Linked DNA regions of Homo sapiens. The protein of the gene in region 3 purifies or fractionates together with the protein of the main gene of each other region. This does not show direct contact. Each region holds a gene or a part of one and is shown on either strand. Other genes may lie near its edges. The genes, in order: HEATR3, NUP37 and SPAST.

What was found.
Region 1: the proteins of SPAST (region 3) and HEATR3 purify together in Homo sapiens (affinity purification with mass spectrometry, with the first as the bait; one large-scale study listed by BioGRID). This does not show direct contact.
Region 2: the proteins of SPAST (region 3) and NUP37 purify together in Homo sapiens (affinity purification with mass spectrometry; 2 studies listed by BioGRID and IntAct, with this or other methods). This does not show direct contact.

The regions. Positions count from the first base shown.
Region 1 is NC_000016.10:50,068,955-50,072,611, reverse strand, and holds part of HEATR3 (HEAT repeat-containing protein 3), read right to left. Parts: intron 2,435-3,657; coding exon 2,322-2,434; intron 8-2,321; coding exon 1-7. UniProt on the Homo sapiens protein: Plays a role in ribosome biogenesis and in nuclear import of the 60S ribosomal protein L5/large ribosomal subunit protein uL18 (RPL5). Required for proper erythrocyte maturation.
Region 2 is NC_000012.12:102,099,615-102,103,271, forward strand, and holds part of NUP37 (nucleoporin Nup37), read right to left. Parts: intron 1,491-3,657; coding exon 1,418-1,490; intron 1-1,417. UniProt on the Homo sapiens protein: Component of the Nup107-160 subcomplex of the nuclear pore complex (NPC). The Nup107-160 subcomplex is required for the assembly of a functional NPC.
Region 3 is NC_000002.12:32,150,501-32,154,157, reverse strand, and holds part of SPAST (spastin), read right to left. Parts: intron 1-3,657. UniProt on the Homo sapiens protein: ATP-dependent microtubule severing protein that specifically recognizes and cuts microtubules that are polyglutamylated.

The DNA.
Region 1 (3,657 bases), on a different chromosome or scaffold from region 3:
GCATTCACTAAATTGAAGGGGGAAAAAAAAGTTTTACTATTCACATTTTAACAGTAGGAAATCAACCATAGCAATCCATAAAAAAACAAACGAGGCTTTATAAACCAAGGAGTTGGAATCAAACACCCACCATTTTTATCGATGAAGGAACTAACACCCATTCACATTCACTGTACATGAGAACTGGCTATCTATATTTTATTTCTATCACAATGGGACCTTTTCATCAATCTCTTTGCCATGATGCCAGTTTCCTTATAGAAGGTTAGAGCTGGAAGAGATCTTGTAAATCGTTTAATTCAACTCCCCATTTTATAAATGTGAAGACCCAGGCCCCAAGTGGTAAAGTGGCCCATCAAAGAGCACACATTTTGTTAGTGGTAGAGCCAGGCCCAGTACCTAGGTTCCCTGGGTCCAGGCTACTGTTTTTTCTTTCCTCCATACCACAATGATAACAAGTTAAAGGAGGATAAAAGGCCTCTATATTTATCACACAAAAACACAAATTTATTTTTTATTTTTTAACCTACTATATTTTAGAACATTAACAAAAACACACATTTAAAGGAAAATAAAATTATATTTTATTCAAGCCTTTTAGAGTGCAATTATAATTTCATCAAGCAGAATTTGCAGTCTACAATAGAGAAATTACAATAAGTATTTTTTAAATTATACTACCTTTTAATAAAAGACTCAGCTTTCAGTGTTATGAATAAGCAAACACATTAAATACGAGTTAACAAGGCTAATTGTAATAATTGTATCCATGTTTCCAGAGGAAATATCCATGTTGTACATGTTTCCTCCATACATATAACATACACACATGACACGCTAACAGAGCTGACTAAATTATTAAACTAAATCTGTTATGTAATGAAAAATATTTCATATCTTCTATCTACCTACCTACCTACCTATCTAGTTATGGCAGCATGAAGGAGCCCACAGTCTAGTCAGGAAGACAAGGCATATATGTGTAAAGATAATTTGAAATATAAATGATGAAACAAAAATGTTAAAAGTTATAGTAACTCAGTGATACAGACAGGGCTCATAGGTATTCAGAAAAGAGAAATCACCTTGGAGATATATTCAGATTCTTTTCAAGGAAATTTTTTAAAAACTTCCAAATGCAACAATTTCTATGACTTAAAGTTATCTGGTGCACAGAAAAACAGCACCCATCAGTTTTTGCTCAAATGCCATTTCCTCAGATCTGATCTCTCTAATATTTCTGGTGGAATGCATTCATTAAAATGAAATCACAGGCAAGGTCAGATTGCCACGTAGGCATTTCAGGATCCAACTTAATCTTGTATTCTAAGAAACATCTGTGCTTTTAGGTCAGCCACTGTAATTGCTGCTGACTGAAGATAAGAAACTGTGACAGAGTCTTGCTAGAAATGTGGGACATAAAATGGGGCAGAAAAAAGTAAATCCAGGTTGTGTTTCTAGCCATTTCCATTCCTAGCGGCAAGTCCACTCCACCCTCACCACTGCTACAATCACAGAATGGAGAGTGGCCTTCTTCCTCCTGGGGCCAAGGGAGCTCTTCTTAGGCATCTACTTCCCAATCAGACAGTAAGTGCCAGGAAAGAGAAAGAAAAGCACCAGCCAAGGTCTGTGGTCCCCATCTCAGTCTAGAGGCCAAACCAAAGCTGCACCTGCATGTGGGACTGACCAGCTTAAAGACAAATTCTGCTCAGGGTGTACAAGAAGTCGGGGGAAAGGAGGAGCCACAGGTGCTAATGGTCATGATTCCTCCTATCTTTTGTCAGATGCAATGACTGGAGAGGAAAGCCGTAAAACAAAAGATGTAGTGATGCAGTAAGAAAACGGACTGGGAAGGAGGGTTGATCTTAGGTCACTTGATCCTGCCTCTTACCAAGTCTTTTTTTTTTTTGAGACAGGAATTTCGCCCTGTCCCCCAGGCTGGAGTGCAGTGGCACGATCTTGGCTCACTGCAAGCTCTGCCTCCAGGGTTCAAGCGATTCTCCTGCCTCAGCCTCCCGAGTAGCTGGGATTATGGGCATGTACCACCACACTCGGCTAATTTTTTAATATTTTTGGTAGAGACGGGGTTTCACAGTGTTGGCCAGGCTGGTCTCAAACTCCCGACCTCAAGTGATCCACCCGCCTCGGCCTCCCAAAGTGCTGGGATTACAGGCATGAGCCACCATGTCCGGCCCCTACCATGTCTTAACATCCCAGATTAACAGGCCTACCAAGGGGAACAGAGATTCCTACACAGTATAACAGAGAATAGCAGCCTGGGTACTGCTATAGCAGGAGACTGTGTTTGGTAGGCATCTTACCATATATTCCACAGCACGTTCACAGTCTCATTGGCTATGTTCTCAATAGAATTTCTGTTCTGATCTTTTTTCTCCTGCAGAGACATCTCATTTGAATCCAGTCCAGCACTACACTGTAACCAAATATCATGATTAGCACCCTGGTTCCTAAGAAGAATTAAACAAATAGGGTAATGATGGTGATGAAACACAAAGGCTAGACATCAGAAATTACCGTGGTTAACAAGCCAGTCGAATCCTTACAAACAGTAGTACAAAATCAATACAAAGTATTTTACCTAATAAATGTAATAAAAGACAGTAGGAAGGCAACAAAAGATGAAATAAGAGCTTCTACCTAGCACCTTCTGTTTATTACATAGCGCCTTCTAAAGTACTATTCTAAGCATTTTACATGTATCAAGTCATTTAATCCTCACAATAAACCTATGAGGTAGGTGAACTATTATTATCCCCAATCTCCAGCTGCAAATGGGAAAGTGAGGTACAGGGAGGCTGCTGAAGGTGTTAGATTAGCATGTGGTGAAGCTGGGATTCAGGCCCTAGCATTTGACTCCAAAGCTGGTGCTCTTAAGCCCCTCTAGTACAGCCCAGGAGACCCTCTAAAGCAGGGCTTCTCAATCCAGGTACTACTGAAATTCTCCACCAGAAAATTCTTTGTTGGGGAAGGAAGGGCTGTCGTGTGCATTTGGGGATGTTTAGCAGCATCCCTGGCCTCTACCCACTGGATGCCAGTGGCAAACCCCACAAGCTCTGTAACAACCAATGTCTCCAGACATTGCCAGTTATGCCCTGTGAAGCAAGATCATACCCAGTTGAGAATCACTGCTCTAAAATGACTGATGCCTCTCATCAAAACTGGATATCCTTTATGTAGCCTTAAGTGAAAATTACCCATCAGTACAGAATAGAGGACCAGAGGCACTCCAGAGACAGAGCTCCTTAACCTCTTGACTATGTCATGCAATAAGACTGGAATGAGATCAAACATGAGAACTTACTGTAATCTTCACAAGTTCCTAATGTCTGTGCCTCGGCTTTGTCATCTGTAAAATGGGAATAATACCTGCCTCATAGAATACTGTGAGGATTAAATTATATAATATCCAAAACATGAAAATAATACCTGGCACATAAATAAGCAATGACTAAATACTAATTATTTTTATTGTAAGAAGTTTAACATCTAAAGGAGTGAGTCTGTACAATTTTAGGAAAGTCTTTTCCAACTATCATAAAAATAAAGCTACAAAATAATAGAGATTAGTATCAATAATGAGAGCAGATTGGTGTTTCCAGGAAAAGGAATGAAATTTCCATAAGATGTTTAGATAGA
Region 2 (3,657 bases), on a different chromosome or scaffold from region 3:
CTCACTACTTAACAAACACACACAGGATGGACTTCACCATCTAATGCCTTCATTTACATGCTCAATGTGACTGCTAGCAGTGAAGACAGCTAGTTGTTATAAGCCCATAGTTATCACCAACACAAAAAATCTCGACACAGAAGCAACAAATGAGAAGTTGCACAGTGGAGGACTGTGTGAGCAGATAAAGTTCAATCTGTCTAAATCTTCATAGTTGAAATCCTAAATAGGCCTGTCAGATAATTACTTTAATGGTTATCATTCTTTCTACCCTTCCTTCTTTCCAAAAACTCAAATTTGATCTCAGTTCTGAGGTTATTAAAGCAGTTCTATATAGTACTGCTCACTATGTAGAAATGTAATATTAAAAAAAAAACAAAAAACAAAAAGATTTGGGTCAAACATTCCTGAGCAACTTTAACAAACCCAGGTCCTCCAAATCATTCTCCAAAGCTTCTGTCACAGTCTACAAGACAAACTAAATTAACCGTAAATGTTTAATGTGTATTATAACTAGCATATTAACTTTGGATAGGTCAAAATTTTATGTGCCATTTATATACTTGGTTATTTCTGGTACAGCCTTAAATTAACCAATCCATACAGTACATTAAGCCCACTGTAAATAGCTTACAGCATAATTTTTACTATTTTCTAAATGATTGGAAAGGTTTGTAATTTATCTTTGTTTTATAACAATATTCATATTTTGGCTTATTAGAAAGCCAAGAAGGCAATACCATTCTTAAAAGAAAACATGATGCAATTTTGACCCAATCTGAGGGTTATTATTATAGTAATAGAAAACACACATACGGCGTTTACTATGTATCAACATTATTCTAAGCGTTTTATATGAATTTGCTCAGTCAATGCTCATAATCCTATAAGGCAGCTGCTATGATTACCCACATTTTACAGGTAAGGATATTAGCACAAAGAGATTAGGTTACTTAACCAAGGTCACACCACGACTAAGTAATAACACTGGAGTTTAAATGCAAGGAATCTGGCTTCTGTGTCTGTGCTCTTAACCGCTTTGGAATTCTGCCTGTGCTATGCTGTACTGATCATTTGTTCCCATGAAGTTCAACTCTTACTCTATGAATGGTCATGTCTATTATACTCCTACTATATCCAACTGTAAATTTCTAGTTTTCTTATTTGTTGTTCCTACCTAATATTTCAATTTAATAAGAGATATCAGATTTATAATCTGCAGTCATTAAGAACTTAGTTCTTAATAATATAGTAAGCTAGTTATTATAACCTATAGTAGAGTAAATGAGACTCTAAATTATATACTTTAATGATGACCATAAAAAGCCATTTTAAATTGGAATAAATCCAATTAAAAAAGCAAAAAACAAACACGTTTTAAAATAAGCTCTAAAGATTTATATGGTTGTCAACATACCTTATATTCATTTTTATCCTGAAGATCTGAAGTAAATAATCTAATTTTCATATCAGCAGCTGAAGTACAAAATCTGGAAGCAAAAAAACAAAAATATACCAATTTTTAGCCTTTGTAAGTGAAAGGTCTCCCCCTCCCCCCCATCCTTCCCTTCAGATCACTGAAGCTTTTATCATAACTCATAATCATGCTTTTTATGGAGGGGGAAAGAAGAATGTTGTGGCTCTACTGTAAAAAGTATTATACAGCCATCACAGAAAGTAGGAGTCATATTATTTTATTTTGAGAACACACAAAAGGTTAGTCTATTCTGGATGTGCTTCTTCAGTAATAAAAGTGTAGAATTTTACACTAAATCAGCACTTGAATTTAATTTTAAACGTTTTCTTAAAAGCATAAAAGGATGGATTTTAAAAAGTATCTTCATTTTAGCCAGGTCACCAAGACATATTAAAAATATTGTTATACATCTACCTTAGTCTTTGCCCTCTTCTGTTATCCATAATCCTTAGTTTTTTCTATTCCTCCAAATAAATCAGATGAAGTAAGATACTATTTTTATAACTATAAAAGCTGATAATATTTATACCTACTAAAAGCTGGAGTATTATTTATACTTTAAACATTTAAAACATGTTTTTCAGTAGTTAATCAATGGATTATTAAATTAAAAAACAAAACCTAAGCAGCAAACACTCCTTTTTTTTTCCTTTGAGACAGACTTGCTCTGTTGCCCAGGCTGGAGTGCAGTGGTATGATTTCATACCACTGCAGCCTCCACCTCCCAGGTTCAAACGATTCTCCTACCTCAGCCTCCCAAGTAGCTGGGATTACAGGCGCCCACCACCACACGTGGCTAATTTTTGTATTTTTAGTAGAGACAGGGTTTCACCACGTTGGCCAGGCTGGTCTCGAACTCCTGACCTCAGATGATCCGCCCATCTTGGCCTCCCAAAGTGCTGGGATTACAGGCATGAGCCACTGCGCCTGGCCAACAACTACTTTTTAAACTAGTTTATCTTTAATCCTAAATTTTCTAGATTCTCAGGATGTGAGACAATGGCTGAGAAAAAAATTTAAATTATATTTATATACTGAAAAACAAAGTTTATTTTCAATTCTTTGGTAGAAAGAGTATCATACACAAATCTAAATTTATTCTTTAGTTTGAGTACAGTGAGCCATTTTTTCTCAACTAAAGGCTCTTAATCCACAGACCCTGATGTGTTGGTAGACCTTTGCTACTACACCCCTTTCCAGTAATTTGTCAAGAGTTGTTAGAGAAAACAGATCAAAGCCACCAGGGAATGATTCTTTGTCCAAGGTCTTCTCAGAGGCAAAATTAAAGTTGTAGTGGAATAAAGCATGTCTTCTTTCAAGAAATGTCTGTCTACTCAGGTTCTTTGCCCATTTTAAAATATAACTGTTTTCTTGTGATTGAGTAATTTGAGTTCCCTACATATTGTTGATATTAGCCCCTTATCAAGATGTATGATTTGCAAATATTTTCTCACAATCTGTAGGTTGCATCTTCACTCTGTTGTTTCCTTTGCTGTGCAGCTCTTTAGTTTAATACAATTCCACTTGTCTAGTTTTGCTTTTGTTTCCTGTGCTTTTAGGGTCAGATCCAAAAAATTCACTGTTGTGGAGATTAATGTTGTGAAGCTTTTTCTGTTTTCTTCTAGCCATTTTACAGTTTAAGGTCTTAAGTTTAAGTCTTTAATCCAATTTCAGTTGATTCTGCATATGGAGTGAAATAACGGTTCAATTTCATTCTTCTGTGTGTAAATACAGTTTTGCAACATCATTCATTGAAGACACTGTCCTTTCTTCATTTTATGTTCTTGGCACCTTTGTAAATAATCGATTGACCATAAATGCATGAATTTATTTCTGGGCTCTCTATCTTATTCTATTGGTCAAGGTATCTCTTTTTATGTTAGTACCATGCTGTCTTGAATACCATAGCTTTTATTTTGAAATCAGGTAGTGTGATGCCTCCGGGTTTGTTCTTTTTTTTGCTCAAAATTGCTTTGGCTATCTGGGGTGTTTTATAATTTCATATAAATTTTTTAATTGATTTTTCTATTTCTGTGAAGAATGACATTGGAGTTTTGATAGATAGGCATTGCATTGAATCTGTGGATTGCTTTGAGGAGTAAGAACATTTTAACAATATTAATTCATCCAATCCATGAACACAGGATATCTTTCCAATTATTTGTGCCAAGTTCAATGTC
Region 3 (3,657 bases):
ACTTGTGTTTAGTTTCATAGGTATTAACATTTGAAAGCATAATATTTTTCCAATATAAAAACAAAACACAATCATTTATAGAAAAGTTCAAAAATACAGACAAAGAGAAAAAAAGAATCACAATTTCACCACTCAGATATGCAACCTCCCCCTCCAAGGTTCAAGCAATTCTTCTGTCTCAGCCTCCCGAGTAGCTGGGATTACAGGCACATGCCTCCATGCCCAGCTAATTTTTGTATTTTTAGTAGAGACAGGGTTTCGCCATGATGGCCAGGTTGGTCCTGAACTCCTAACCTCAGGTGATCCGCCCACCTTGGCCTCCCAAAGTGCTGGGATTACAGACGTGAGCCACTTTGCCCAGCCTAAAGTATGCATTTTTATATTAATTTGGTCTTATTTTCTGATCTTTTAAATTGCCTTTGGAAATATAGATTAAAACAATGCTGAGTTAATGAATATCTATATTTACACCTAAGTATTTTTAAAAGGCAAAATGGATAGGTTCACAGAGTCCAGGCAATAGAAAAATTAATAAAAATTTTGGCCAAGCACGGTGGCTCACACCTGTAATCCCCGCACTTTGGGAGGCCAAGGCGGGTGGATCACCTGAGGTCAGCAGTTCGAGACCAGCCTGGCCAACATGGTGAAACCCCGTCTCCACTAAAAATACAAAAATTAGCCAGGCAGGTGCCTGTAATCCCAGCTACTCAGGAGGCTGAGGCAGGAGAATCGCTTGAACCTGGGAGGTGGAGGTTGTAAGTGAGCCGAGATCGTGCCATTGCACTCCAGCTTGGGCAATGAGTGAGACTCCCTCTCAAAAAAAAAAAAAAAAAAAAAAATTAAGGCAAAATGCAGTTTGGCATAAATGACCTGTGTTAAAAATCATTTCTAGCGTATACCTGTATTTTGGCCCAAAAATAAGAAGTTAAAGAACTTTAAACAAAACTCCAACAACTGGTATTTATCCGTATTTTAAAAACTACTCTTAAAAACCCAATCTAACTTCATATCATCTTTGATATCTCCATGAGATATCACCTACACTTGTAACTTGTAAACTAATCTGAAAAATTTTAGCCAAAAAGAAAAAAACATATAGTTAAAATATAGGCTGGCTGCAGTGGCTCGCACCTGTTAATCCCAGAACTTTGGGAGGCTGAAGCAAGTGGATCACTTGAGCCCAGGAGTTAGAGACCAGCCTGGGCAACATGGCAAAGCCTCATCTCTACAAAATGTACAAAATTTAGCTAGGCATGGTGGCGCACGCCTGTAGTCTCAGCTACTAGGGAAGCTGAGGTGGGAGGATCACTTGAGTCTGGGAGGTTGAGGCTGCAGTGAGCCATGAGCATGCCAATGTATTTCAGCCTGGGAGACAGAGTGATACCCTGTCTCAAAAAAAAAAACCCCAAAAACCCAGCAACCCCCCACCAAAGAAAACCCCATAAGCACTATATGAACCCTACTTGTTTCCTATTTAACTGTAACACACACACTGCCTCTTCCTAAAGGCCAAAGTGTAGAAGAATAATGAATGTAACATGGGTATTAAACATGATATTACTAAATAAAATTTATTTGTTATAGAAATTAATATTTTTGTTTTGAGACAGGGTCTCACTGTTACCCAGGCTGGAGTGCAGTGGCATGATCTCGGCTCACTGCAACCTCTGCCTCCCAGGCTTAAGAGATCCTCCCAAGTAGCTAGGACTATAGGTGTGCGCCACCACGCCCAGCTAACTTTTTGTAATTTTTGTAGAGATGAGGATTTCACCATGTTATCCAGGCTGGTCTCGAATTCCTGAGCTCAAGGGATCCAATGGCCTGAGCCTCCCAAAGTGCTGGGATTATAGGCATGAACAACCACGCCTGGCCAGAAATTAAGGTTTTAAAAGATGTTGATGTAATTGTACTTTAAGTCTATAGTTTGATATGTGTATATATATGAAACTTATATGATATTTTAACGTAAGAGACTAATGTATACAACAGGAAAAAGGCAGATGGTAGCTGGTTCAGTTAAGGGGGGAAATAAGTAGAAAAGTTGTCTTATCAAACCAAAATAATAAAGGACTTAAAGTTAAATTAGATACACAAGGTACTTAAAAAACAAAGTATATTGTACCCCAATTTATAACCAACAATTTTAGTACTAACCTTAAAAATACAGAAATTCCAAACCAATTATTTGAACTTCTACTATTATAAACTGTAAAAGATAAGTTGGGTTTTTCTTTTTTTTTTTTTTGGAGATGGAGTCTCGCTCCTGTCGCACAGACTGGAGTGCAGTGGTACGATCTCAGCTCACTGCAACCTCCACCTCCCCAGGTTCAAGCAATTCTCCTTCCTCAGCCTCCCGAGCAGCTGGGATTACAGGCATGTGCCACCACGCCCGGCTAATTTTTGTATTTTTAGTGGAGACGGGGTTTCGCCACGTTGGCCAGGCTGGTCTCGAACTCAAGACCTCAGGTGATCCAACTGCCTCGGCCTCCCAAAGTGGTAGGATTACAGGCGTGAGCCACTGTGTGCGACCAAGTTGGGTTTTCCTTACCTAAATTTATATATATTCACCGGTAACTGACAATACACTTTGGTATTAAAGTTGCATCAAATAATGGGTATATAAAATTCTAGTATACAGTTTTAGAGAGCAAACTACTTGTGTTTACGTCTCATCCCATAAATGGAAATGAGAGAATGGATTACCTTAATCTCTATAATAAAATGCCACTATCAGTTTTATATTTTTTAAAGTTATTTAATGGATCTTTACATAGTGTTTACTACGTGCCAGCTACTTTAAGTGCTTTATAAATATTAACTCATAAGTAAGCAATAACAGCTAAAGGTCATTATCAAATTATTAATACCAAAACCACTAGATTAAAAAGAAACAACTGAATGAAAGTATATAGTAGAGCCAGGCATGGTGGCTCACACCTGCAATCCCAGCACTTTGGGAGGCCGAGGTGGGCGGATCTCCTGAGGTTGGGAGTTCCAGATCAGCCTGACCAACATAGTGAAACCCCGTCTCTACAAAAACACAAAATTAGCCAGGCATAGTGGCGCATGCCTGTAATCCCAGCTACTCAGGAGGCTGAGGCAGGAGAATCACTTGAACCCAGGAGGCGGAGGTTGCAGTGAGCCGAGATTGCACCATTGCACTCCAGCCTGGGCAACAACAGCGAAACTCAGTCTCAAAAAAAAAAGTATACAGTAGAACCAAATATTGTAACAATATAACCTGAATATATATAATTAATGGGATGCTCACAAAAGGGACCAGTAATATTCTTCCTTGTAAATCACTCAGTAGTTTTATTAAGCTTTAATTTTTAGTTTTACCATCTAAATTTTTAATAAATAATGTTATGACTTTTAAAAAATGGTGGATAAAATTATATTTTTAGGTGTGGGATTAAAAATTTCAAGTCTGGCACGGTGTCACACCTGTAATCCCAGCATTTTGGGAGGTGCAAGTGGGAGGAATGCTTGAGGAATCTGAGACCAGCCTAGGCAACATAGTGAGACCCCATCTCTACAAAAAATTAAAAATTTAGCTGAGTGTGGTGGTACATGCCCGTAGTCCCAGCAACTCAAAAGGCTGAGGCAGGAGGATTGCCTGAGCCCAGGAGCTAGAGGGTGCAGTGAGCCATGATT